Linked DNA regions of Homo sapiens. The protein of the gene in region 7 purifies or fractionates together with the protein of the main gene of each other region. This does not show direct contact. Each region holds a gene or a part of one and is shown on either strand. Other genes may lie near its edges. The genes, in order: PTPN2, VMA21, SLC19A2, CUX1, TLCD4, TMEM68 and TNFSF18.

Region 1 (3,326 bases), on a different chromosome or scaffold from region 7:
CAGCTCAGAAGGTGCAGCAGATGAAACAGAGGCTAAATGAGAATGAACGAAAAAGAAAAAGGTGGTTATATTGGCAACCTATTCTCACTAAGATGGGGTTTATGTCAGTCATTTTGGTTGGCGCTTTTGTTGGCTGGACACTGTTTTTTCAGCAAAATGCCCTATAAACAATTAATTTTGCCCAGCAAGCTTCTGCACTAGTAACTGACAGTGCTACATTAATCATAGGGGTTTGTCTGCAGCAAACGCCTCATATCCCAAAAACGGTGCAGTAGAATAGACATCAACCAGATAAGTGATATTTACAGTCACAAGCCCAACATCTCAGGACTCTTGACTGCAGGTTCCTCTGAACCCCAAACTGTAAATGGCTGTCTAAAATAAAGACATTCATGTTTGTTAAAAACTGGTAAATTTTGCAACTGTATTCATACATGTCAAACACAGTATTTCACCTGACCAACATTGAGATATCCTTTATCACAGGATTTGTTTTTGGAGGCTATCTGGATTTTAACCTGCACTTGATATAAGCAATAAATATTGTGGTTTTATCTACGTTATTGGAAAGAAAATGACATTTAAATAATGTGTGTAATGTATAATGTACTATTGACATGGGCATCAACACTTTTATTCTTAAGCATTTCAGGGTAAATATATTTTATAAGTATCTATTTAATCTTTTGTAGTTAACTGTACTTTTTAAGAGCTCAATTTGAAAAATCTGTTACTAAAAAAATAAATTGTATGTCGATTGAATTGTACTGGATACATTTTCCATTTTTCTAAAGAGAAGTTTGATATGAGCAGTTAGAAGTTGGAATAAGCAATTTCTACTATATATTGCATTTCTTTTATGTTTTACAGTTTTCCCCATTTTAAAAAGAAAAGCAAACAAAGAAACAAAAGTTTTTCCTAAAAATATCTTTGAAGGAAAATTCTCCTTACTGGGATAGTCAGGTAAACAGTTGGTCAAGACTTTGTAAAGAAATTGGTTTCTGTAAATCCCATTATTGATATGTTTATTTTTCATGAAAATTTCAATGTAGTTGGGGTAGATTATGATTTAGGAAGCAAAAGTAAGAAGCAGCATTTTATGATTCATAATTTCAGTTTACTAGACTGAAGTTTTGAAGTAAACACTTTTCAGTTTCTTTCTACTTCAATAAATAGTATGATTATATGCAAACCTTACATTGTCATTTTAACTTAATGAATATTTTTTAAAGCAAACTGTTTAATGAATTTAACTGCTCATTTGAATGCTAGCTTTCCTCAGATTTCAACATTCCATTCAGTGTTTAATTTGTCTTACTTAAACTTGAAATTGTTGTTACAAATTTAATTGCTAGGAGGCATGGATAGCATACATTATTATGGATAGCATACCTTATTTCAGTGGTTTTCAAACTATGCTCATTGGATGTCCAGGTGGGTCAAGAGGTTACTTTCAACCACAGCATCTCTGCCTTGTCTCTTTATATGCCACATAAGATTTCTGCATAAGGCTTAAGTATTTTAAAGGGGGCAGTTATCATTTAAAAACAGTTTGGTCGGGCGCGGTGGCTCATGCCTGTAATCCCAGCACTTTGGGAGGCTGAAGTGGGCAGATCACCTGAGGTCAGGAGTTCAAGACCAGCCTGGCCAACGTGGTGAAACACCATCTCTACTAAAAATGCAAAAATTAGCTGGGCATGGTGGAGGGCACCTGTAATCTCAGCTACTCAGGAGGCTGAGGTAGGAGAATTGCTTGAACCCAGGAGATGGAGGTTGCAGTGAGCTGAGATCACGTCACTGCACTCCAGCCAGGGCGACAGAGCGAGACTCCATCTCAAAAGAAACAAACAAAAAAAACAGTTTGGGCCGGGTGTGGTGGCTCACGCTTGTAATCCCAGCACTTCGGAAGGCCAAGGCGGGCGGATCACGAGGTCAAGAGATGGAGACTGTCCTGGCCAACATGGTGAAATCCCTTCTTTACTAAAAATACAAAAATTATCTGGGCGTGGTGGTGCATGCCTGTAGTCCCAGCTCCTTGGGAGGCTAAGGCAGGAGAATCACTTGAACCCGGGAGGCAGAGGTTGCAGTGAGCCGAGATTGCACCACTGCACTCCAGCCTGGCAACAGAGCAAGACTTCGTCTCAAAAAAAAAAAAAAAAAAAGTTTGAAAACCATTGGTATAGATAGATATTTTGAATTGATTTGCATAGTCTCCTTGAATGTGTTAAATTATGTTGAAAGTATGAAAGCAGGATGTAGGTGGTACTACATATTAAATAAGATTTATATAACATGTGCCTGTGTCCTGATTCAGTATTACTGTGTCCTGTAACCTTGAAATGGAGAGGAGGTAAGAGGGACATTTTTTTATGTCTGTCTGCATTAAACCTGTGTTGAGGCATCCAAGACCCTTACATTTCAGGTTGTTATTGGTTTAAAACCTCTTTCCAGTTTGCATTGGTTTGTCTTTGCTAAATGCAGTATGTTTATGTTACTCTGCAAGTCACATACAGGTAGACCTTATGACATTTCCAGTTGAAACTAGGCTTGCTTTCGGTACACAGGTGAAGACTTGAGGAAGCCAGTGCCAGAGAGGACGTGCCTCACCCCTCAGCTGGCTGAATGCGCTTCATTGGCTTACGCTTTGCTTTCTGTATGCTTTCTGTCCTTCTGGGTGGTGTCGCATATATTTTTAAAACCACATTCAGTGTGATGAACACTTGTTGGTACACTTCTAAGGTTAGTCATCTTTCCTTCTCTGAGCAGATCCTTGAGAAGGGCATTGACAGTGGATGCTTTAAATAGTGTTCAGTTTTTACCAGTAATAATATTTTTTGGTGGATGTCATGAAAACACATGACATCGTGTTGTGCCCATGATAAAAAGTCCTGACTTTTTATTGAATGAGGTGTGCTGGTCAAAGAGACAGACGTGGCTGCCTTCTCTGGTAACAGCCAGAGGAAAAAGTTAGCAATTCTAGATGGGTTCTACAGCTTTAAAAAACTTGTTGTATCCTTAGGTCCTCATAATATTAAATATTTTCTAATTTTAACAGATTTTAAGAGTCAGATATATACTTTGACTTGAATGATGTAGTGTTGCTTAAGGAAGAAAAAATTATAAAAAAAATGTTTCTTTTATTTTCAGGAGTTTTTAATTCATATCTAGTTCATTTCCACTCATATCTATTTCTGCTAATAGATTGACAGCAACCTTTGGTTTAATGCTGTGTTCTCTAGCTACACCAACAAGTTATATATTCCTTTCCAATATTAACCAAGTATTTATTTTATGTTAGCCTATGACTGAGTTTTATCTATGCTTGC
Region 2 (4,033 bases), on a different chromosome or scaffold from region 7:
CCAATAGGAACAGTGATCATTAAAGCTGTGAAGAACAGGAGCGTCTTCAGTGTAGATGCTAATGAGCTTTCATTTCTGGAATAAAGTAAACAAAGAGAAAATCAGAACCTGCACAGTCATATCCAAACGCTCTTATGTCCCTGAAACTATAAACATCCACAAATGAGATGCTATGCAGGAGGAAGATCACAGGCAGGGACTCGTAATCCGAAGATCCTAGAGAACCAGCTGTGGGTAGTGGGAATTTCTTGAGCTGGAACATGAAGATTATACACCACCTTTAGGGACTGTCATTCATATCCAGTGTAAGACGAAGCGTCAGGGCACCTCAGATCAACTGCCAACAAGCTGGGTGAACAAACTAAGTGAAGAAACTCAGTGCCCCTGCCTCTGGAACTGGAGCTTTTACCCAGGGAAGCCACGGCGGACAGCGGCACCAGTGCCCAACCCATGCGGCAACCGTGTCCACCAGCACCAGACACCAGAGCTGGGAACGCAGCAGGCACCATGGGTGGATCAGCGCGCCCTCTTTTGCTGGAATCAGAGCTTCCGTCACGGGAAGCGACCAGCTTGCTGTCCTCCAGCATGAGACAGTGGACCAGGGAACTAACGAGGCAGACACACCTGTGCACCCTCCCACACTGGAATCAGAGCTTTTGCCCAGGGAAGCCACTGTCACACTGGTCCCTGAGCCCACGCAGCAACCCTGACCACCAGCACCGGACACCAGACCAGGGAACTCGGCAGGCACCACAGGTGGAGCAGTGTGCCCTCTCCCGCTGGAATCGGAGCTTGCATCTGGGAAAGCTGCCAGCCTCCTGTCCTCCAGCACCAGACAGTGGACCAGCAAACTAACCAGGTGGAGCCGACGCACCAGCGTGCCCTCCCCCACTGGGATCAGAGCTTTGGCCCAGGGAAGCCACTGCCACACCAGTCCCTGAGCCCGTGCAGCAACCCTGACCACCAGCACCAGACACCAGACCACTGAAGGAGGTAGGCAGGGCGAACGGACCAGTGCGCCCTCCCCAGCTGGAATAGGAACTTCTGTTATGGGTGAAAAATCGAGCTAGAGGGAATACTTCCAAACACGTTTTAAGAGGCTCCAATCACCTTGATACCTAAGCCAGACAGACACAGCAAGAAAACTACAGGACAACATCACTGATGAACACTGGTGCAAAATTCCTCAATAACATATTTTCAAACCAAATTCAACAATAATCAGGCCAGGTGTGGTGGCTCACACCTGTAATCCCAGCACTTTGGGAGGCCGAGGCAGGCGGATCACTTGAGGCCAGGAGTTCGAGATCAGCCTGGCCAACATGGCAAAACCCAGTCTCTACTAAAAATACAAAAATTAGCTGAGAGTGGTGGCGTGTGCCTATAGTCCCAGCTACTTGGGAGGCCAAGGCACAAGAATCCCTTGATCCTGGGAGGCAGAGGTTGCAATGAGCCAAAATCACACTCCAGTCTGGGCAACAGAGCAAGACTCTGTCACAAACAAACAAAACCAATACATCAAAAAGATTATATATTATGACCAAGTAGGATCATCTCAGTTGATGCAGAAAAAGCACTTGACAAACTTCCGCATCCTTTACTGAGCTGAAAAAGAAATCAAGAAAACAATCTCATTTATAATAGCATTAAAAAAAAATACTTAGGGGCCAGGCTCAGTGGCTCATGCCTGTAATCCCAGCACTTTGGGAAGGCTGAGGCTTGAGGCCGGGAGTTTGACGCAAGCCTAGGTAACACAGCAAAACCCCACCTCTACAAAAAAAAATTTTGATAATTCGCTGGGCATGGTGGCACGTGCCTGTAATCTCAGCTACTCAAGAGGCTGAAGTGGGAGGATTGTTTGAGCCCCAGAGGTCAAGGCTGCAGTGAGCAGTGATTGGGGCACTTTACTCTGGCCTGGGTGACAGAGCAAGACTCTATTTCAAAAAAAAAGAAACTTAGGAATAAATTTAACCAAGGCGATGAGTGACTTGTACACTGAAAAGTATAAAACACTGATGAAAGAAATTGAAGATGACACAAATAAATGTAAAGATATCCTGTGTTCATGGATTGGAAGAATTAATACTGTTGAAATGTCTACAGCACCCAAAGCAACATACAGATATAACACAATCTCTATCAAAATTACAGTAGCATTCTTCATTAAAATAGAAAAACAATCCTAAAATTCATCATACAGAACCACAAAAAGCCCCAAATAGCCAAAGCAACATTGAAAAAGTTGTAAGCATCACACTTTCTGATTTAAAATATTACAGTTATAGTAATCAAAACAATATGGTATTGGCATAAAAACAGAAACATATAACAATGAAACAGAATAGAGCCCAGAAATAAATCCAAACATATATGGCCAACTAATCTTCGACAGGGGTGTTAAGAGGAACACAATGGGGAAAGGACAGTCCCTTCAATAAGTGGTACTGGGAAAACAGGATTTCTACATGCAAAGAAAAAAACTGGACTCTTACACCATAAACAAAAATCAACCCAAAATGGATAAAATAACTAAAACATAAAGATATAAAGTTTTAAGACATAAAAGAACACAGAGGGAAAGGTCCTTAACATTGGCCTCAGTAATGATTTTTTGGATATCACACCAAAAGCTCAGGCTACAAAAGAAAAAATAAAGCGGCTTGCATCAAACTAAAAAGCTTCTGTACTGCAAAGGAAACAATCAACAAAATGAAAAGGCAGCTTACAGACTAGGAAAACATATTTGCGAACCACCTATCTTGTAAGGGGTTAATACCCCAAAATTTATAAAGAACTCTTACAACTCAGCAGAAAAACCACCTGATTAAAATATGGACAACAGCTGGACAGACATTTCTCCAAAGACATAAAAATGGCCAAGAGATAAATGAAAATGTGCTCAACATCACTAAATCATCAGGGAAATGCAAATCAAAACCACTATGAGATATAACCTCACACTTCTAAGGACAGCTATTATCAAAAAGGCAAGTGATAACAAATGTTTGTAAAAGTGTGGAGAAAAAGAAACCCTACTACATTGTGACTGGAAATGTAGACTGGTACAGCCATTATGGAAAACAGTTCCTAAAGAAATTAAAAATAGAACTACCACACAGCCCAGCAATCTCTCTTCTGGAATATAAGCAAAGGAGATGAAATCACTACCTCGTAAAAATATCTGCACTTCCATGTTCATTGCAGCATTATTCACAATAGCCAAGATTTGAAAACAACCTACGTGTATGTAGACAGACAAAATAAAGAAACCGTAGTGTATATATACAAGGGAATATTTTATTCAGCCTTAAAAGAGGACATCTGCCATTTGCCACAACATGGATGGACCTGGAAGACATGTTAAGTAAAATAAGCCAAACGCAGAAAGACGAATACTACATGAGCTCACTTATATGTGGAATCTTTAAAAAAAAAAAAAAAAGGTCAACGGTCAACTACACAGGGACAGAGAATAAAACAGTAGTTACCATGGCGGTGGGGGTGGGAGGCTGGAGGGGAGGAAATAGGAAGATATACATCAAAGGACACAAAGCAGTAGATATATGGATTAACAAGTGAGATATCTAATGTACAAGAGGACTATAGGCAATAAAGTTGCATGGTATTAGGGACTTTTGTAAATAAGATTTTAGCTGCCTCTGGTCACACACACACAAAAGTATGTGAGATGACAGATATATTAATCTGCTTCACCATAGTAATCATTTTACTATATGTATGCCATAACATCATGTTATGAACCTCAAATATACACAATGAAATTTATTTAAAAAGAACCTGAACAAAAAACCCACAAAAACATTGAGTAAAATATATATTAAATATAACTAACCTCATGCCTATTTCTTGATCACATGCTCTGCACATGTGTGAGAAATTAAATGCTTACTGCTGTAAAAAAAAAAGTTCTAATATTTTCTTTTGGTACTTAAATGGATCATCTTTTAGCAGGCCTCATTTTGGTTATTACTGAGCTATACAACTCTCATTTAATATACATAAGCTCCCTTAA
Region 3 (4,033 bases), 3.6 Mb from region 7:
TTATCTGTATATACGTTAATTTTAGCTAAAGCCACTGTAACACATTCAAAACAGATAAAGAAGTGTCTTTATTTTTTTTCCACTTCATAAAATCTATGAAATGATTACACACCTCCTTCCCTCCCCCATCAACCCTCTGTTGACTCTCTAATATCACCTAACAAACTATGAAAAAAATCAGCATTTCATTGCCACTTAATCCTTGGTCATTCTGACAAAAAGTGCTCACAGGTGCCCTGGTAATCAAGGTGAGTTTCATGATGAGGGTTGCCCAGGCTCTACAAGTCTACCCAGGCTCTCTGGGATGATAACCTAAATTTCAAGTAGTAATTTGAGAGCTGAAGAACGGGGATAGAGAAAAGAGAGTAATTTTCAATGAGGACATTAGATGCCACATTTAAACAATTCAGTTAACTCTCAGTAGAGAATGAAAGACTTTACTCATAATGGTTCTTTATTATCAGCCAGCCTACAAAGCTTATGGAGCTCAGTCCGACTGAGGCCACCTACAAAGCTGGAATGTTAATAGGCTTATTTCCAAACATGTCCCAGGAAAACTAAGACTACAGTGTGGCTGGAATTAACTTTGTTCCTCACAGCTTATAACCTAATAGAAACAAAAAAAACACTTGAATATTTAAAAAAAAAAAAGGGTGGGTGTCTAGGGAAAGGAATTCATCTTCCTGGCTAGACAGAACAGATGGATAAATTATTTTAATGCCATACCTCTCTCTTCCAAGAGACAGCTTCATAACACACTTTTACTATTTATTCCATCACCACCTCAAACTGTCCTCTTGTGATCTCTTCGTCTGTATTATTCATTACTACTTCACTTCAGCAAATTGTCATTTGAAAAATAAATAACAGATATCCCTTCTAGCACAGAAGAGGAAATTAACTTCTTACCCTTAAATACTGTGGGCTTCATGACTGGGTGCGGTGGCTCACGCCTGTAATCCCAGCACTTTGGGAGGCTGAGGCTGGTGGACTGCTTGAGGTCAGGAGTTCGAGACCAGCCTGGCCCACATGATGAAACCCCGTCTCTACTAAAATACAAAAATTAGCTGGGCGTGGTGGCGAGCGCCCATAATCCCAGCTACTAGGGAGAGGCTGGGGCAGGAGAACTGCTTGAACTCTGGAGGCGGAGGTTGCAGTGAATCGAGATCGCACCACTGTTCTCCAGCCTCAGCAATAGAGCAAGACTCTGTCTCAAAAATAATAATAATAATAATAATAATTTGGGCTTCAATTCAGAAACTAGAAGTAGATACTTAATCATTTATTAGAATCATTTCATCTACTCATTTAGCAACAATTTTCTGAGTGCTTTATTTATATGCCAAACACTCAAAAGATGAAGACACAGCCCTTGCAATCCAAGGCATCTCTGACATGAACAATATAATGCTGTATCAGTCTGACTTTGGAGGTCACGCACTCCAGGAAAAAATAAATGTGTCATCCCTAATATAAATAAACCATAGCTTGAATGAATGAATGAATGAATGAATAAAGCAATAAACCAACTCAGGATAAAACATGAATCCAAATAAATACAAGATCTACCAAGAGGGAGTTTGCTGTTTTTTTCACCACGGGTCCAGCCCCCATAGTAGCAATTACAAGATATTTAAGGCTGAGCTTACCGGTTCCTCCACGGGAGGCTCCTCCATATTTAGAGGGATTTTTGACTCAATGTCCTCCCAGCCAGGAAGGTGGTTAGAAGCTGGGGTGTCAGTAACAATGCCACCATTTTGTACCTTGATGCCATTCACTCTCTGGCAGGTAGAAGGAATGTGGTGAAAGAAGAGGCTCTTCTGTGGCATAGGTAAAAACCAGGCCACAGCAAAAGCCACTGAAACACAGGTAAGAGAGATGACATTCAGGCTGAACAGCGACCAGCCTGCCACTGAGACAAGGATTTGCCCTAGGACAGAGCCCACTGTAAAGCCCACCAAAGTGGCACTTCGACAGTAACTTGTGACTTTCTGGTACATGCCCAGGTCCACCACACTGTAGATATAAGAGTAATAGGCAATTTCAGTGGCTGTGGCGATGCCATAAAAAAATTCTAGAAATTGAATGGCCAGCAGTCCCTGGGCATAGAGCAGCATAAACCATGTAACAATAAGGCTGAGCCCCTGCAGTAGAACAACAGGTTTATAACGGAGGTAGTCTGTGGCAAGGAACACAGGAAACAGTAGCACCAGGTAAGAGTAAGTCCATACTGGATAAATTTCATTGAAGACCTGGTAGAAAGAGAAAAAAAAAAAACAAAAAACATTAGTGATGAAAGGACCTGGAATACTCATAAAGAATTTATTCATAAAAAACAACCTACAAATACCTCAAAGATCTCAACCTTGACAACAGCAGTTCAGATAACTTTGAAAATGTCTTTTCTCTCTTTTTTGTTTGAGATGGAGTCTTGTTCTGCGCCCAGGCTGGAGTGCAGTGGTACGATCTTGGCTCACTGCAACCTCTGCCTCCCAGGTTCAAGTGATTCTCCTGCCTCAGCCTCCCGAATAGCTGAGATTACAGGGACCCACCATCACGCCTGGCTAATTTTTGTATTTTTAGTAGAGGTGGGGTTTCACCATGTTGGCCAGGCTGGTCTCAAACTCCTGACCTCAAATGAGGAGCCTCCCAAAGCGCTAGGATTACAAGGGTGAGCCACCTCGCCCAGCCTGAAATATCCTTTCCTATCCCCAATACCATCATCTTTTTCCTAATAAATTCTTCCCATTAATCAAGGCCTAGTTCAAAGACTTCCTTATTCAGAAAGACTTTGCGGAAGCCAAAAGTACTTGTATTACAACATTCAAACCCTTTTTTTTTTTTTGGTTTTGTTTTTTGTTTTTTTGAGACAGGGTCTCCCTCTGTCACCTAGGCTGGAATGCAGTGGCAGAATCATGGTTCACTGCAACCTCCGCCTCAGGTGAGGCTCAGGTGATCCTTCCACCTCAGCCTCCCCAGTAGCTGGGACTACAGGCCTGTACTACCACAACCAGCTAATTTTTTTTTTTTTTTTTTTTTTTTTTTTTGGTAGAGATAGGGTTTCACCACGTTACCCAGGCTGGTCTCAAACTCCTGGGCTCAAAGCAATCCACCAGCCTCAGCCTCCCAAACTGCTGGGATTACAGACATGTGAGCCATCTGGCCTAGCCTCAAACTCTCCTAATACTGATCTATATGCATCAGTTTCCCCAATTAATTCATAATACTGGCTCTTCACCATGGCTGCATCTCCTAAGAAGCTTTAAAAAAATGTGTTAGCCAAGCGTTGTGGCACATGCCTATGGCTGCTACTCAGGAGGCTGAGGTGGGAGAATTGCTTGAGCCCAGGAGTTTGGGGCTGCAGTGACTTATGATCACACCACTACACTCCAGTCTGTATGACAGAGCAAGACTCTGTCTCTTTAAAAAAAAAAAATGCCCAGCCACAGATATTTTCTAAAAACTTCCCAATAGAGTTTTAAATGAGCCAGAGTTGAGAACAACTGCCTTATAGGCTTTTTAAGGATAGACCCCTACATTCACCTGTATAACCTGTCTAAAAGCCAGCATACTGTTTGGAAGATACTATTCAATAAATGCTTTGAAAACGGAATCACTGTCAATTCTTACTTCTAGACACAAGATAGGGAGCCTTTATCCTACTGTTTCATTAAGCTTCTCTGACTTTAAGTTTTGTTTCTTTTGGGGCAGAGGAACAAATAAAGATGGTCAATGTGTCCTACAGTCTTGACAGAATTAAGTCTCTCTAGATGGCAGGAATATAGGCAACTTTTATGTCCTTCTTTTTGCTTGTTTTTAAATAGAAAAAAGAAGTTTTTGCTGTTTTCTTTCTAATGCATATTTTAAAATTGGGATATAGTAGAAATGATCTTTAAAATAAACTTTAAACCAGAAAGACCCCAACAGGAATTTCAGTTCCATCACTTGCTGTGTGATTGTAGACAACATTCTTTTAGTTCCCCTTAGCCTTAATCTCCATTATCAGTAAAGGGCGGTTGTTTGTTGCAAAAAG
Region 4 (4,033 bases), on a different chromosome or scaffold from region 7:
ATCACAGCTACTCGGGGGGGCTGAGGCACGAGAATCACTTGAACCTGGGAGGTGGAGGTTGCGGTGAGCGGAGTTTGTGCCACTGCACTCCAGGCTGGGCGACAGAGTGAGACTCCGTCTCAAAAAATAAAATAAAAAGAGTTGATATTCGTTCTGTCTTAAAGATATTAAACTATGTTAGAGAAAACAAAATCATGGCAATTCATTAGGGAGAAAGCCCCAGTTTAAGAAAAATTGTCTTGCTTTTGGGGGGAAATGGAAAGAAGCTTTTGTGTTGCATTTTGTTTTTCGGTTTGGTTTGGTTTGGTTTTTTCATATGCTGGGTGGACAGGATCTGAATGTCTTACATTTAACAAAAAGCTGTCAACACCCAGATAAATTTTTAATGACGGTACGACAGGCATTCTATTTCTCACTGTTTCGCAATACTCACTTAAGAAAGAGCTAATTTGTCAATTTGTTTTTCCCTTAACCAAACTCGGAACACCTCATAACCCATGGTTTACTTGTTAAAAAAATGTTAACTGCATTTCCTTATTGAATAAACACAGCCCAATAGAAAGGTATCTATAAGAAAACAAGCAGTGTGCCAGCATCCACTCAAAGTAACCCCAAGAAAGAACAAGCCACTTCCCTGGTGTCTCAGAGTAAGCTCTGTTAATTTCCTGCTTTGTTAACTGCATCAATCACACACGGTCAAGACCATCCAGACCATCCAAGATCTCAAGCTTCGGCTGATGGAGTCGGCCAGGGCCCGGTCCACTCTGGGGGGTCGTGTGCTTTATAAAGGTTCGGACCCCTTATTGGGCTCATTTTCACAAAGGTTTTCATGAAAGGAAGCAGAACCAAGTCAGTTTCACTTACTAGGAAACTCCCGGCTGGCTAGTTCTTGAGTTGCTGGCAGTGTTAGTAAATCCCTAGGAGGAACACCACCATCCTTGGCTCCGTTCCAGTCACCTGTGTGATTATGTTTCTCTGTGTAGGAAGACCCCTGAGGGTGGGATCTGTACCAGTCCTGCTTGTGGGGTCAGCCAGGGATTGGGCGACGAACTTTGTGGCCACAGTACCTGCACTTCCCATGGCCCGAGGCTCTAATCAACACAAAATTTCTGCCAACGGTCCTGGGCCTCCTGCAGTTAGGAAATGCCGTTGGATTAAAATAAAGAAATTGACAATCTTTATTTTGTGCACTAACATCATCCTCTCTGAATTTAATTACAACAAAATTAAAATTATTTTTATTAGAGAGGCATTAGCTTTTTAAAGGGAAGGTTCTTGACAGGTTTTACAACAAATTAGATGTCTTTTTTTTTTTTTTTTCTGAGACAGAGTCTCGCTCTGTCACCCAGGCTGCATGCAGAGCAGTCACACGATCTCAGCTCACTGCAACCTCCACCTCCTGGGCTCAAGCAATTCTCATGCCTCAGCCTGCCGAGTATCTGGGATTATGGATATGCGCCACCACGCCAGGCTAATTTTTGTATTTTTAGTAGAGATGAGGTTTTGCCATGTTGGCCAGGCTGGTCTCGAACTTCTGACCTCAAGTGATCTGCCTGCCTTGGCCTCCCAAAGTGCTGGGATTACAGGCATGAGCCACCGTGCCCGGCCTTAGACGTCTTTCGAAAAGAATGGTTCACCCTCACTGTGTAATACCCGAATAGGGCAGCACAAATGCTTTTTAAAAATCTTTTAAGTCACAAGCCAGGTGCTTCAAAGCTGTTTCAGGCGCAGGACAAATGAGGGGAACGGCACAGGTTCCCCTCAGTCCTGGTTCATTTCCTGCAGGGAAACCTCCATCCCCGCCAAAGACCACTCTCCTCCATCAACCTTCTCAGAAGACAGCAGAGAAGCTGGACTGATTACAGCTCAGCAAATCCAAAACTGCTCCATACCAAACCTTAGCTGTCCTCAGCAGGAAAATCCAACACTGACACACCATCGAAACTTGGTTCTGAAACACATCCCAAAACCAGGGTGATCGACAGCTTTTCAAGACCACGCCTTGAAAACTGGAATGGGTCAAATAACACAGTCAATCCAGAGGGCCCTGCCATTAATATTTAAGAAAACATCGGCCGGGCACGGTGGCTCACGCCTGTAATCCCAGCACTTTGGGAGGCCGAGGCGGGCAGATCACGAGGTCAGGAGATCGAGACCATCCTGGCTAACACAGTGAAACCTCGTCTCAACTAAAAATAGAAAAAATTAGCCGGGCGTGGTGGCGGGCGCCTGTAGTCCCAGCTACTCCGGAGGCTGAGGCAGGAGAATGGCGTGAACCCGGGAGGCTCAGCTTGCAGTGAGCCGAGATCGCGCCACTGCACTCCAGCCTGGGCCACAGAACCAGACTACATCTCAAAAAAAAAAAAAAACAAAAAAACAAAAAAACTAGCCAGGCATGGTGGCGGGCGCCTATCGTCCCAGCTACTCGGGAGACTAAGGAAGGAGAATGGCCTGAACCCTGGAGGCGGAGCTTGCAGTGAGCCGAGATCGCACCACTGCACTCCAGCCTGGGCGACAGAACCACGTCTCAAAAAAAAAAAAAAAAAAAAAAAAAAGAAAAAAGAAAAAAAGAAAAGAAAAGAAAATAGGGGCCGGGCACGGTGGCTCACGCCTGTAATCCCAGCACTTCGGGAGGCCAAGGCGGGCGGATCACTAAGTGAGGAGATCGAGACCATCCGGGCTAACACGGTGAAACCCCGTCTCTACTAAAAATACAAAAAATTAGCCAGGCCTGGTGGCCAGCGCCTGTAGTCCCAGCTACTCGGGAGGCTGAGGCAGGAGAATGGTGTGAACCCGGGAGGCGGAGTTTGCAGTGAGCTGAGATAGTGCCTCTGCACTCCGGCCTGGGCGAAAGAGCGAGACTCTGTCTCAAAAAAAAAAAAAAAGAAAGAAAATATCCCCCTCACCAAGTTAATACTTTTATGGTTGCTGGTGGAGCTTATATTCTCTAAATGTAGAATTTTTTTGGGGGCGGGGGGGAGTATCTTCTCTCTGAATTCTATATCATTATTGGGGTATAATAAAATGTACCTACATGCTCTGGTCAGTCAAGGTTCATCAAGTCAGAAATCACAAATGAATTCACAAATTCTTTGCTCTAAAGTCATATAACAATGCAGATATTAAATTGCTTGTCTAACTATACCATTAGATTCCTTTTTCACTCCATTATCGGCACACACACACACTTCTCTCGGCATCCAGGCATTCACAGGTATCCAGTTCCTAAAGCGCCCAGCACGACTGCTTTGTCCAGGTAAGCAACAGTGGGACATAAGGAGAGGCTGTGGGGCCCCTCTTCAAATAGCTTCGACAAAACGAATGGCTATAAGTGAAAAGTGTCCCTGGGCTTTGCTATAAAAAGACTCAAACATGGGATTCCAAGAATTCCACCTGTTTCCAATTAGATACCAGAATTGCTTGAGTGTTTAAGCTACACTCGCTTGCTACTTACACAAAACAATTCTTCCGGGTTTTGTGAACATTTTAAATATGTTAAAATAAGATTAAGGGTCTGGTTTAAACAATCGGAGGCAGGGAAATTTCGGTGGAAACCAAAACTCTCTCTCTGCAGCGATAACGCGGGGCTTCAGACAAAACAAAAGGACAAGACAGACAAATTTCTGTCTTTGACAATTATAATAAAAGTCACTTTTCATAGAGCAATTACATTTTTTAAAGTTATGTATTCAATAATTTTAAATAGGTCTTAAGTAATTTCTACAATAACTCACGATCCTGGATCCTGTATATTTGAATAATGGTTAGAGTTGCCTTTTACATACCATTTGTGTTACAATTCGTCAGATATACCTGTCTGTGAAATTTACATGTGACAAATGTGTAAACTATTTGAAATGGAAGCACGGGTAGGAATTTAACCTACCTCTGTAGGATTCTTCATATGATGAATTTCTCTGCTTACGAAATGTATGAGTTTTCCCCTAACAAACGTGTCCTTCCTTCATTTCACTAAAAACAGACGTTCCTGGGGCATTACAGAGGAGCTGAAACAAATGTGGATTTTCTACTT
Region 5 (4,033 bases), about 78 Mb from region 7:
TGGGGTGCAGAACTATGCTTCAGTAATCTTGAGTCTATATTTTCTGATCCTGTACCCGTCAATATATCAATGACTCTGGGCCCATTTAATCCAATGACAGATAGCATCACATGTGACACATACGTCCATCAGCATAGGTGGCCATTAGATAAGATTCAGGTTATGCATAATTCCTTGTTACTTTATCCTTTTCTCTCCTATTCAAGAAAACCTACTAAAATACAAATGAGATAGATGCTATTAAAGGGATAGGATTAAATCTTTCTATAATATTTTTAAATAATTACAAATTCTGATACTTTATTGTTGGTAAATTATGGCAAAACTCACAAGTTATTTATGGTTAGTGTGGTGTCTCTACTCTGTCATCTACCTTTAAGGAGCTTTGCATAGAGTAAAATCTACATTTGCCATGGCCTCTGCATGACTGTGAGGGGAAACAAAACAGGATTTTTCTGATCCCTTCCGCAGCTTAAAAGAAAATTCTCCTTTTAGCAAGCGATTATGGAAGTCTGGATTTTCTTACTATGGGAAATTTTTCTACCAGCTAAGAGTGGCTAAGACCAGAGGTTTATAAGGTGGGGGGGAAAAGAGAACTAAATTATGCACCTACTACTGCTAGTATGGTACTAAATACTGACTGTTCTACCACCAAAGGCCTGGACAGAAATGGGCACCCTTTCCCTACTATACTACACTACACTGCACTGCACTGCACTACACTACACTACGACTATATGTTGGTAGGAAATAAGTTCTGGGCATCCCAAATTGGAATCCTGTGTAAAAACGTGACCGTGTTCTATAGTGGCAATGATGGGGCATTTTTTAACAGGTAATAGACTGACCCAGAGTCTCAAGCACATTTCAATTGTGCTTGAGACTCTGGGTCAGTCTATTACCTATTAATGGAAACCGTTTCAGGGTACCATCAACCTAGAATTGAGGTTTGGAAACAAAATCTATTACTATGTTTAATAATTATTTGCTTAATTGTAATCATTCAAGGTTTTTGATTATTTGCTTATAAGACAGAGATGAAGGTTTGAGCTAACACACAGGACTGGACTGCCAAATCAGACTCATGTGAAACAGTGTTCCTACCTAGCATTAAGCTCTACTAAATGTTACAAAGATAGAGACCATCAAATAATTCAAATGAAGCAGAGAGAGGTCTGGGACATCAAGGGCCACTGGCAACCCAGTTATTTATTTCCTTGCTGTGTGCCTACATGACCTTCTCCAATGAGCTGTGCCTTATAGATACTGGGTTCTCTTTACTATAGGTAATCCTTACCCAGGGACACACTGCTAAGGGCATTTCAGAGTTAATGTTTCTTCTTCCTAACAAACATCAGTACTCAATTTATCCTAAGTCCTGTTGACAAGGAGATTAGACTGGGCCACGTGCCTTCTTTTTCTCCCCTCCTGTCCCCCAAGGAAGTGAATGGATTGGCAGGCCAGCTGCTTTCACCTCTTCCTCCTAGGGTTACTTAAGAACTTGGTGACATAACTTAGCTTATTGTTAATTCCCCCATTGTCTAGTTCTCTTGCATCAGAACTAAATCAAATCATTTCAACAAAACAGGTGCATCACAGAATCTCAGAATTAGAATAGAACCTTAAAGATTATTTAGTGCAAGCTCCTACCTAAAGCTTCTGCTGATTGTATCTACTTTTATATCTATCTGACTAAAGCTATCTTATGGTAGAATAGCCACTTTAAAAGGCCTTTCCATTGTGATAATCTTCCAATCACTGAGGATGTCTTTCTTCCATAAAATAGAAGTCTCCCCTACCTCTCTTTACCACCCCATTGGTCCTAGTCCCAACATCAGAATCAATCCAGAATAAGTCTACTCCCCCTTCCACTTAGTAGTCCTTTCACATTTCCAGGGACATTTCAAGGCCATCATGTCCTTATAGTTCTTAGCTTTTCTAGGCTGACATCTCCAGGTCCTTCAATTGTTTGTTATAAGACAATAGCTACCTAATCTAATATCTCCTCTCTACAGTTAACTAGCAGCTCTCTTCCAGATACATGCAAGTTTAGGGACTTCAGATGATGATGGTCTTGGATGTGGTCTGACTGGGCAAACTACGTGTGAATTGGATACCAGGCCTCCTCTAATAGAATCTAAATTTGAAAAAGCTTTCTGTTTTAGCAGATGTGATAAATTGGCATAACTGAGATGCAATCATCTACCACCTCCAGGTCATTCTTTATCCTTATGCATCGTTGAACCTAAATGCAAAACTTAACATTTATCACTATTAAGTTCCACCCATTTGTTTCAGTTTATAGTTAGGATGAAGCCTTTCTAAAAATGTAATAACATTGTCCAATATGTTATTAGTTCTCCTTCCTAACTTTGTTTCAGTTATCTCATAAGCTTGCTTTAACATTTTTATTATGGCAAAATATATATGACATAAAATTTACCCTTTTGACAACTTTTAAGTGTACAATTCAGTGGCATTAAGTACATTCATTTTGTTATACAACCATCACCACCATCCATCTCCAGAACTTTCCATATTCCCAAATGGAAACTCTGTACCATTAAACAGTAATTCCCCATTATCCCTTCTGCCCAGCCAGGATCACACCACTGCACTCCAGCCTGGTGACAGAGCAAGACTCCATCTCAAAAAAAAAAGAAAATAAATAATAATAATATGGTGGGCTTGGAAATTGATGCATATTGAATGATTTTCAAGTTTAAATGTTTTCCAAATATATTCTAACTCATTATCTAAAGGCATGGTTTAATTGGAGAAAGAAGTGATTCACAAGGAACACATACACAAAAAGTGAAGGCTATCAATGTAGTCAGAAAGGGTGTACAAAGGATGGTAGTTTGTCCTTAAAAATTGAGGATTAAAGCATAAATGTGTTCATTTCTCTTAGAATAAGAGATCAGCTTGTCAGGTTTATTTGATAATTAGTATCCTGCTCCAGGGGTGAAAGATGAGTATCAGGAAAAAAGGCTGTAGGATTTGTACCTCTCTATATAGACAGAAGAGGATTCATTAAGCTCTAAATTACTTTGCCAGAGAATTTCAAAACGTCAGTAAATATAGTAGAAAGATACAAAAATAGCAATCAAGACATTATATAACCTATAATACCTTAAATTCCAAAGAATCTTACTTTTCAACTATTTCTTCAGTAAGGATACATTTTAAAACTGCAGGGAACTTGCTTCTATTCATCACTTTAAGTTTTACTTTGGTTCTAATAACAAAATCATTTAAGAAAAAAAGCTTACTGCAAACAGCTTAAATGGTTACATAAGTATTAAGTCAAAGTGCTTTCCAAATACAAGTTCTCATTATTGCATAAGTGATAAGAATTTCATGATCATTTACCCCCCCAAAATTATAATTATTATTATTTTTGTTAGCTTTACTTGGAATAACAAAATGCACAAAATGACCTGGGAATTCACTGCATAGAAAAAAACCTTCTTATAGTCAATGAGTAACTACTGTAAGATTGGTAAATAACATAGGATCCTTATAGCATCTGTTAACATTCATCATTTCATCTAACTTTTCCTATTTTGTTTCCCTATGAATAGATTCACTTTAAAAGACAAATTTTAAACTATAACAACAGAACATAGACATATCAAAAAAGCAACCATCTTTATGAAAAAAATTGCAGTTGCAATATCTACCTTGAGCTTGTTGGTATATTTATGTTGAAAAACAATTGATTCTAGAGAAACCTAACAAACATACAAGGAATATAAAGTTGCTAGTTTACATATGTATATGTAGAAATTTTAGATATATAATTTAATATGCTTTACTGCCTGAGATCTGTTGGAAGAATCCTCTATTAACCTTGGTCTTGGAATTCTGAAAAAGTCTGAGCAAGATTTCTCCACTGCTCCAACCTACTTAAATGTAATTATGTATATGTAATTGCACATGGAATTAAACAGAAAAGAAATATTTTCGCTGGCTCATACTCTTTGCTGTTAAATCATAAATGCATCTAGAAATACAGACAAATATCTATAGC
Region 6 (4,033 bases), on a different chromosome or scaffold from region 7:
GCAACACTGTAGAGCTTTCTATGCACGCTTTTTTTTTTTTTTTTTTTTTGAGATGGAGTCTGGCTCTGTTGCCCAGGCTGGAGTGCAGTGGCGTGATCTCCACTCACTGCAATCTCCGCCTCCCGGGTTCACACCATTCTCCTGCCTCAGCCTCCCGAGTAGTTGGGACTAAAGGTGCCCGCCACCACGCCCGGCTAATTTTTTGTATTTTCAGTAGAGACAGGGTTTCACCATGTTAGCCAGGATGGTCTCGATCTCCTGAACTTGTGATCCGCCCGCCTCGGCCTCCCAAAGTGCTGGGATTACAGGCATGAGCCACCGTGCCCGGCCTCTATGCACGCTTTTATCTAAGTGAGATGGAGAAGGCATCAGAGGGCACTGAGCAGAAGGGTGAGGTTGCCTGGCTTGGGTTTTAAGTGGCTGCTGTGTTGAGAATATACTACACAGGCAGCAAATAGGAATATTTGCAATAAGTGATGAAAGTGGCTTACATACATGTGGCAGAGGGAAGGCAGTAGGAAATGGTCAGTTTCTGGATATATTTTGAAGATAATGCCAACAGGATTTGCTAATAAATTGACGTAGAATCTGAGATAATTATATGGTGTTTTGGCAACCTGAGTTTGTATCCTGGGAGGCTCTGCCACTTACCATGTGACCTAGCAAGTACTTAAATATCTTTCTGCCTCAGTTTCTTCATTTGTAAAATAAAAATAGCATCTACCTAATAAGACTATCGTGAAGATTACGTGTAAAAAAACCTAGCAAGTACTTAAATATCTTTCTGCCTCAGTTTCTTCATTTGTAAAATAAAAATAGCATCTACCTAATAAGACTATCGTGAAGATTACGTGTAAAAAAACTCTTAGAAGAGTGCTTTCTACCATATAAGCATTAACTATTGCTATCATCATTATTATTCACTTATAAGCATTAACTATTGCTTATAAGCATCTAAGCATAGTTAATGCTTATCACATATAAGCATTAACTATTGCTATCATCATTATTATTCGCTTGCTTGTGAAAAAATAAGAGTTGCAGGAAGAACAGGTTTGAGGGTGGGATGGAGATCAGGAATTCCATTTTAAACATGTTAAGTTTAAGATGTCTATTGGACATCCAAGTGAAGACATTAAGTAGGCAGCCGGACATCAGCAGTTTAGCAGGAAGATCAGGAGGAGGATACAGGGTATAAGTGGATGGCCCTGATATAAATCTAGGAATTGGTAGCATATAGACAATATTTAAAACCATGGAACTAGAGAAGATCCCTCCAGGGAACGAATATAGAGTAAAAAAGAATTTCTGGCCAGGCACAGTGGCTCACACCTGTAAACCCAGCACTTTGGGAGGCCGAGGCGGGAGGATCACCTGAGGTTAGGAGTTCGAGACCAGCCTGACCAACATGGAGAAACCCCGTCTCTACCAAAAATACAAAATTAGCCGGGCGTGGTGTCGCACGCCTATAGTCCCAACTACTTGGGAGGCTGAGGCAGGAGAATCGCTTGGACCTGGGAGGCGGAGGTGCAGTGAGCCGAGATCATGCCACTGCACTCCAGCCTGGGCAACAACAGCGAAACTCAGTCTCAAAAAAAAAAAAGAATTTCCAGGACTGAGTCTTGAGGCACCCAACATTTTAGAAGTTGGGAAGACAATGGCAAGCCAGCCTCCTCCTTGCAGAAGCAGTATCCTGGAAGTAAGAGCTTCAAGAAGGAAGGCATATTCTGCTGTTTTAAATGCTGTTGACAGGCCTAGTAAGGTAAGAGATCACTTCCTTCCTGTAGGAGACAGCTTTAAAAAAAAAAAAAAAATGATAATTGATCACTGGATTTTACAACACAAAGGAAACTGGCAAACCCTGGTAAGAGCTGTTTTTGTATAGTAGGAAACAAAACACTTTGGACAGGAGAGGACAGAAGCAGCTCCCCTTTACCCTTGAAGTTCAAGAATGAATGGGAGAAAATGAATTGGAAACAGCAAATATAAAAACTCACAAAGGAGGAAAGAAACAGGTGGGTATCTAGAAGGGAACACAGGTGAGTTGTTCCTTGCTGCTGCTGCTGCAGCTGTTGCTTTAAGACAGAGGCCAGGCATGGTAACTCACACCTGTAATCTCAGCACTTTGGGAGACTGAGGCAAGAGGATCGCTTGAAACCAGAAGTTCAAGACCAGCCAGGCAATATAGTAAAAACTCATCTCTAAAAAAAAAATTTAGGCCAGGTGCGGTGGCTCACACCTGTAATCCCAACACTTTGGGAGGCCAAGTAGGGGCAGATCACTTGAGGCCAGGAGTTCAAGACCAGCCTGGGCAACACAGTGAAACCCCATCTCTACTAAAAATGCAAAAATTAGCCAGGTGTGGTGATGCATTCCTGTAATCTCAGCTACTCGGGAGGCTGATGCACAAGAATGGCTTGAACCCAGGAGGTGGAGAGTGCAGTGAGCCGAGATCATGCCACTGCACTCCAGCCTGGACAACAGAGTGAGACTCTGCTCAAAAAGAAAAAAAAATTAAAAATTAGCCGGGCATGGTGACATGTACCAATGATCCCAGCCACTTGGGAGGCTGAAGGGGGAGGATCACTTGAGCCTGGGAGGTAGAAGCTGCAGTGAGTAATGATCAAGCCACTGCACTCCAGCCTCAGTGAAAGAGCAAGAGACTCTGTCTTTAAAAAAAAAAAAAAAAAAAAAAAGGGCCAGGCACAGTGGTTCATGCCTGTAATCCCAGCACTTTGGGAGGCCAAGGCGGGTGGATCACTTCAGGTCAGGAGTTTGAGACCAGCCTGGCCAACATGGTAATGCCGTCTCTACTAAAAACACAAAAATTAGCCAGGCATCATGGTGCATACCTGTAGTCTCAGCTACTTGGGAGGCTGAGGCACTAGAATTGCTTGAACCCGGGAGGCAGAGGTTATATAAGCCGAGATTCTGACAGTGCACTCCAGCCTCAGGGACAGAATGAGAATCCCATCTCAAAAAAAAAAAAAAAAAAAGATAGGAGAAAATACACCCATGTTCAATGTCAACGATAATTCATCAATGGGAGTGAGAAACAGATGATGTAGGAGAGGAGATAATTGTTAGAGCTCTGTCCTTGACTAGGCCAAAGGGGACAGGATACAATGTACAAGTGGATGGCCCTGAGAAGTTTGTGCCAGATACTATTCTAAATATATCAGTAAATAAAATAGTTATCTAAGAAAACATACGAAAAACACTTACTTTCTGGCACATAGTAGGCACCTAACAAATGCTGGCTAAATATACAACTGAACTGTGTTCGTCTAAAACTTTTTTTTTTTGAGACAGAGTCTCACTCTGTCACCCAGGCTGGACTGCAGTGGCTCGATTTCAGCTCACTGCAACCTCCACCTCCCAGGCTCAAGCAGTTCTCATACCTCAGCCTCCCGTGTAGCTGGGACTACAGGCAAGCACCACTGCACCCAGCTAATTTTTGTATTTTTAGTAGAGATGGGGTTTTGCCATGTTGGCCAGGCTTGTCTGGAACTCCTGGCCTCAAGTGATCCGCCCGCCTCCACCTTCCAAAGTGCTCGGATTGCAGGCGTGAGCCACCCTGCTTGGCCTCATCTAAATCTTTAACAGAAATCTGGATCAAAACAGTATCCTAAAACCTGCTACTAGAGAACTATCAGAGGAATTTGAATAAAATGCCTTTCAGTAGATAAAATGTAGCACTTACTTTTGATAATATGACAAAGTGTCTTTAAATCTCAATGCAACCCCTTAATTGTGCAGATAACAAAAAAAGTAAACACAGAAAGCCAAGTTTGCTTGCTTAAAATTACTAAATTAATTCAGTAAAAGCCAAGAACTAAAATTAAAATCTAGTCATCTTACCTCCTGGTCTGGCTTCCAACACACTTTCTTTGATATATCTCTCTTTTTCTCTCTTGACAGAAAGAAAATATTAAGATTGCAATTTCTGTCTTCCCTATACTTCTGCCTGGCCCTTCCCCTTCCCCCTGAATTTACCTGGGGGTGTAACTGACTTCTTATCACTTTATTTTAA
Region 7 (4,667 bases):
ATCCATATTGTTAAATGGTCTTGTTAAATTTTTGCCCATTATTATCTCATTAATAGTAATGGGGCAAATATTAATCACTCCCCTCTACTGGGAGCTACTTTATGTCAGATACTCTACTGTCTCATTAATCCTTAGCACAACTCTACAAAAATTAGGTTGCTCATTTTGCAGATGAGGAAATGAGGATGAGAGGGATTAAGTAACTAGCCTAAGGTCATGCAGCCAATAAAAGGCAAGAATGAGATCTACACCCAGCCTGTCTGGGTCAACACTCTCACCTCTACCACTCTGTGGGGTAAGTTTCTATTTATAATTCTGCTGATGTTTGGAAGTAGTAAATACCCACTTTTAAAGACACATATGGGTTCGTTATTTTTGCTTAGAAGGATCAGTTGCTTTTGTAACCTCTTCTTGATTTAAGGCTAGATTTACGTAGTTCGGCTCAAAATGGCCAAAACAATCATTCTCTCTCCAAACCAACCCTAATCAAATCATCAGTGAAAATAAAATCTGCTCTGCTTTTAAGTATAAGTACAACTTCCCCTTCTGAAAGTATCCTTCATTTTGCTGAAGTTCAGACTCTGCTGAACATTTGATTTCTTAGTGATAATTCCTGTGAGATTATTTTCACTGAGGGATTGACCAAACTCCTTGGACTCACAGCTATCCTTTTAGTTAAATATTTTCTCAAAGAAGAGAGAAAAAAAGAAAAAAATTGACCCAAGGAGCCAAGCTTCCCATCTAACACTTTTTAAAGTGTTACACTTTCTTTTAAGTGTACACTTTTTAAAGTAGTGTCTAGACAATCTGGAAAGTGGGACTTTGTATGTAAAAACTAGAGTGGAGACCAAAATAAAACTTCACGGTTCATGGGTATTGTGACAATGTGGAAGTGGCCACATCATAATGAATCACTATCTGCCAGCCTCTCAGACTTCTTTTCCAGAGATATTTATTTGTGGCCAATAGGGAAAGGGAAGTACAGGTAAGTGGAAAGTGAAATGCAGAAGCTAATATCATGTATGGTTGGCCAGGCCACTGGCTTTTCCCATAGAAACAAATCCTGCAAGTGTCCTGTCAGAACAATATTCTAAAAACATTTTATACTTCCCCAAATTTGAAACAAACTCTGGGTTATCTTTAGAGGTAGAACATTTCATTGAGAAACTGGATCTAGGAGAGAGAAACCAGAATCAGAGCTCAAACACATGGGATTAATCCAGTTTGATTCTGAAGAGAGGTGTCCCAGATGATCTGGCATTATTAGACTTTCTCTTTCCCTTTGCAAGAACTGCTGGGTGCCTTTGGGAAAGGCTTCTGTGTATTCATTCCTGAGTCATATGTAGGAACTGATGATGCTTATATTCAGTGTTCTTCAGGGTTATCTGGCTAATTAATCTTATAATTTTTAGAAGAAAGAAGCACTTCCAAATTTAAGTTATTGCTATTCTCACCCTTCCTCTTCTTCAGAAATCTAGACACTAAGAATTTCTGACAATTCTTTCTTTCAACTTCACTGACCCAGAAAGTTCACACTTCTGCTTCATACATTTCTTGAGAGAGCAGGGTTGTAATTAGAAATGCCTCTGTTGCACATAAGCCTTGTATACAGTTATGGAATACAAATTAATGGGCTACTGTGGAAAAATTGGCCAAAGCTATACCTACTCTAAATTAATATCAATAGGGGACTGCTTCCTCCTGCATCTTTTCTCAATTACTTTTACTTATCTTAAGTGGTAGAACTATATCTTTGAAATCTTTGCTGGTCAGTTCCCTTAAGAAAAGTGTTTCTGCAGTCACATTTCAACTCTTTCTCAGATGGACATATGCCACTTTATTCTCCCCAAAACTTAGAGTCTTCAAATTTAGCCAGAAATAGGCTAAATCCTGAAATAAATAAAGCATTTCTTATTTTCTTTTTGATCAGTGCTACGTAGTTAACTGTGAGGAAAGATTTTTTAGTAAAGAACAAAACTAATCTCCATTCCCAGTGTACCATCCCATTCTCTAGGCCCACAGCTTGGCCTGCATCTCAATGGGAAATTCCTGACAAGCATCAGGGGCTTCCCAAATAGATATGGGCTTTCTCATTCCTCCATGAAGTCTTCCCTGATCAACTCAATCTAAAGTCATTGTTCCCTGCTTTTGAGTGACTTAGGCATTTATTCTTCATACTACCCTTAAATAAATTCTTGATCATGACATTTTATAGCTAGAAGAAACATCATAATAAATCCATTCCCCTACCACCAGTTTTTTTAGATAAAGAAGCTGCAAACTAGAGAGATTAAATGTCTTTATCAAATTTATACAGCTGGTTATTAGGAGACCCAGAACCAGAATCCAGATCTTCTTACACCTAGCTCAGGGCCACTTCCCTCCTCAAAGACACACAAACCACCTGTCATTTACTTAATCCTGTCTTTCACTATTTTTTTAAGTCTTTTCCATAAATAAGACTATAGCTTGCATCCCATTCCTTGATATTCATTCATATTTTTACCTTTTTTATTCCACCAAGAGCTATAGCAGAGGGAAGGAAAAATACTCCACAGGCCCCTGTCAATTGGCTTAACCAGTTCTCTCTATCTAACAGAGTTCTGCAGCTAACATTTAGCATTTTCTGATACCTTTTATCTCAAAACCTTTAGATAAACTTCAAACGCCATGTCATGACAATATTAGAATTGTATTTACATTATGTATACACATCTCTTCCTTCCAACTATTGCTAACAATACTGAGTGACAATGATAACAACTAGAAAAACAAATAAATAGAGGATTATAGCAAATAGTAACCTTAGGTACAATTGCCTCCTTACCTCTAATTGGAGAAAAATAAAGATTAGCCAACTGAAGGAGCAAAGAAATAGCAACATAACTATTGAGCAAAAGAGCCACAGCTTCCAGGATGATCTCTGAGCTCCTTGAGTTCTTGAATGGCTTAAAGGCATATTTTCCAAGTGGCTCAAACACATTTTTGGAGAAATGAGAGCTGTGGAAAACAAAAATTCACAAGTGATGGGTGAAGGATGCAATGTCATGTTTTGTAGCAATATGGTAATTAGTAGTGGGTGTGGAAGGCGGAGTTTTCCTTCTGTCACTGTGTTAGAAAATGATACTTATAACTTAAGTGCTGACTCTCATTTGGCACCAGATCAAATACAACAAAAGGAACGGAAGGCTGAAAGCCAACACAAACTCAGAACATAAAAAAAAAAGCACAAGGGAAGTTCAGAGGGGAAAAAAATTTCTTTCCTAAATCAAACGGCAGTACAGTGCACGTGTAGAGGAGGCTTGGGAGAATAAAGTGGTGTGCTCTCATCTAAGAAAGTATTCCAGATTATTTCTAGATAAGAAAATCACTTTTTATAAGAAAAAATAAAGTTTGAGATTAATCCCCCTACCATACTCCAGATATCATGTACATGAGCGGCAGAGTGTTAGGAAGTTGGAGAGGCTAGGATCTCTAGTTTGGAAAAAATAGAGTTTTAATCAAGTCATCATCTTGTTTACCTTAAATACCCACAATTTTTATTTGTCAATTATACTTCAGTAAACCTGGAAAAATAAAATCTATACTCACAAAAATGTTTCATCAATTTCTAGTGTATAGAATGCGTTCATTCTGAGTCTCTAGAAAATATCAAGTGTATTACAAGAATTTAATAAAAAATTGTAAATACAACAAGCTCAATTTTATATTTCATCATTTTTAAACTCTGATAATCTAGTTCTGGCATAAGAAGTTATTTTACAGAAGGATATTTTCCTGCATCCTGCCCTCAGCCAGAGCTTATACTCTATTCCAAAAAAAAAAAAAAAAAAACCTTGGGTTTTCTTCCTGGGCCCAAAAATATGGGTTTACTACAAAATTGAGGAAGTCTCCTGGTTCTATGGACCTCAGTCACACAGGCTTTTAAATCAGACAGACCTCAAGAGCAGAGGCTGGCACTGCCCAGTTCCTACCTGCTCTGTGGCCTTAGGCATGTTACTTGAGTTCTCTGAGCTTCAGTTTCCTTCACTGTAAAATGGAGAAAATTTTCACTTTATAATGCTTTTGTGGAGAATGAAATGAAGGTGAAAAGTTTATGCATTCCATAAATGTTAGATTATCTCTTCTCTACCCTCTTTAGCGATGTAGTGAAGTTTAATTCAATTATTAAATCCTAGAAAAGAATGAACATTCTTTATCTTTCCCACAAGATAAAATTCACCTAAAGTTTACTTAAACAAAAGGAAGTACAATGAAAGTATTTTGGAAAACCTATTTTTTAATCTAAGAGAGAATTGACGATTTATAAATTAGAAAAAAGTCCAGAGATTTAACATCCTCCTTTACAAAAAAAGGAAACTAAGGACAAGAGGGTGTGAGTAGTGTCTCAAATCACTGCTGGCTGGTTAATGATGGAGTGAAAACTCAAGCCCACAGATACTGCTTTGTAATCCAACCATTTTGTCTTAATATTGCACTATTTACAATATTATTAGCAATATTTCTCTCTGAACTGTCAAAATTTTAATTTGGGCCCTATTTTACCTTGTTCAATAAACTACTTCTTAAAAGACCAGTTACACAAAAATGATTTTTCAACACAACAAATGTTTTTGTGGCTCTGTACTTAGATGCTGCAATGCAGGGATAAAGAATAAACTTACTCT

Evidence for each region.
Region 1: the proteins of TNFSF18 (region 7) and PTPN2 purify together in Homo sapiens (affinity purification with mass spectrometry; one large-scale study listed by BioGRID and IntAct). This does not show direct contact.
Region 2: the proteins of TNFSF18 (region 7) and VMA21 purify together in Homo sapiens (affinity purification with mass spectrometry; one large-scale study listed by BioGRID and IntAct). This does not show direct contact.
Region 3: the proteins of TNFSF18 (region 7) and SLC19A2 purify together in Homo sapiens (affinity purification with mass spectrometry; one large-scale study listed by BioGRID and IntAct). This does not show direct contact.
Region 4: the proteins of TNFSF18 (region 7) and CUX1 purify together in Homo sapiens (affinity purification with mass spectrometry, with the first as the bait; one large-scale study listed by BioGRID). This does not show direct contact.
Region 5: the proteins of TNFSF18 (region 7) and TLCD4 purify together in Homo sapiens (affinity purification with mass spectrometry; one large-scale study listed by BioGRID and IntAct). This does not show direct contact.
Region 6: the proteins of TNFSF18 (region 7) and TMEM68 purify together in Homo sapiens (affinity purification with mass spectrometry; one large-scale study listed by BioGRID and IntAct). This does not show direct contact.

What each region holds. Positions count from the first base shown.
Region 1 is NC_000018.10:12,791,119-12,794,444, reverse strand, and holds the end of PTPN2 (tyrosine-protein phosphatase non-receptor type 2), read left to right. Parts: coding exon 1-167; 3' UTR 168-870; coding exon of another isoform or gene 871-922; 3' UTR 923-2,293; downstream 2,294-3,326. UniProt on the Homo sapiens protein: Non-receptor type tyrosine-specific phosphatase that dephosphorylates receptor protein tyrosine kinases including INSR, EGFR, CSF1R, PDGFR.
Region 2 is NC_000023.11:151,399,673-151,403,705, reverse strand, and holds part of VMA21 (vacuolar ATPase assembly integral membrane protein VMA21), read right to left. Parts: intron 76-4,033; coding exon 1-75. UniProt on the Homo sapiens protein: Required for the assembly of the V0 complex of the vacuolar ATPase (V-ATPase) in the endoplasmic reticulum.
Region 3 is NC_000001.11:169,475,506-169,479,538, forward strand, and holds part of SLC19A2 (thiamine transporter 1), read right to left. Parts: intron 2,253-4,033; coding exon 1,650-2,252; intron 1-1,649. UniProt on the Homo sapiens protein: High-affinity transporter for the intake of thiamine. Mediates H(+)-dependent pyridoxine transport.
Region 4 is NC_000007.14:101,820,194-101,824,226, reverse strand, and holds part of CUX1 (Homeobox protein cut-like 1), read right to left. Parts: intron 1-4,033. UniProt on the Homo sapiens protein: May be involved in intra-Golgi retrograde transport.
Region 5 is NC_000001.11:95,151,702-95,155,734, reverse strand, and holds part of TLCD4 (TLC domain-containing protein 4), read right to left. Parts: intron 1-4,033.
Region 6 is NC_000008.11:55,766,346-55,770,378, forward strand, and holds part of TMEM68 (DGAT1/2-independent enzyme synthesizing storage lipids), read right to left. Parts: intron 1-4,033. UniProt on the Homo sapiens protein: Catalytic subunit of the alternative triglyceride biosynthesis pathway, which mediates formation of triacylglycerol from diacylglycerol and membrane phospholipids.
Region 7 is NC_000001.11:173,047,914-173,052,580, forward strand, and holds the start of TNFSF18 (tumor necrosis factor ligand superfamily member 18), read right to left. Parts: upstream 3,029-4,667; 5' UTR 2,984-3,028; coding exon 2,828-2,983; intron 1-2,827. UniProt on the Homo sapiens protein: Cytokine that binds to TNFRSF18/AITR/GITR. Regulates T-cell responses. Can function as costimulator and lower the threshold for T-cell activation and T-cell proliferation. Important for interactions between activated T-lymphocytes and endothelial cells.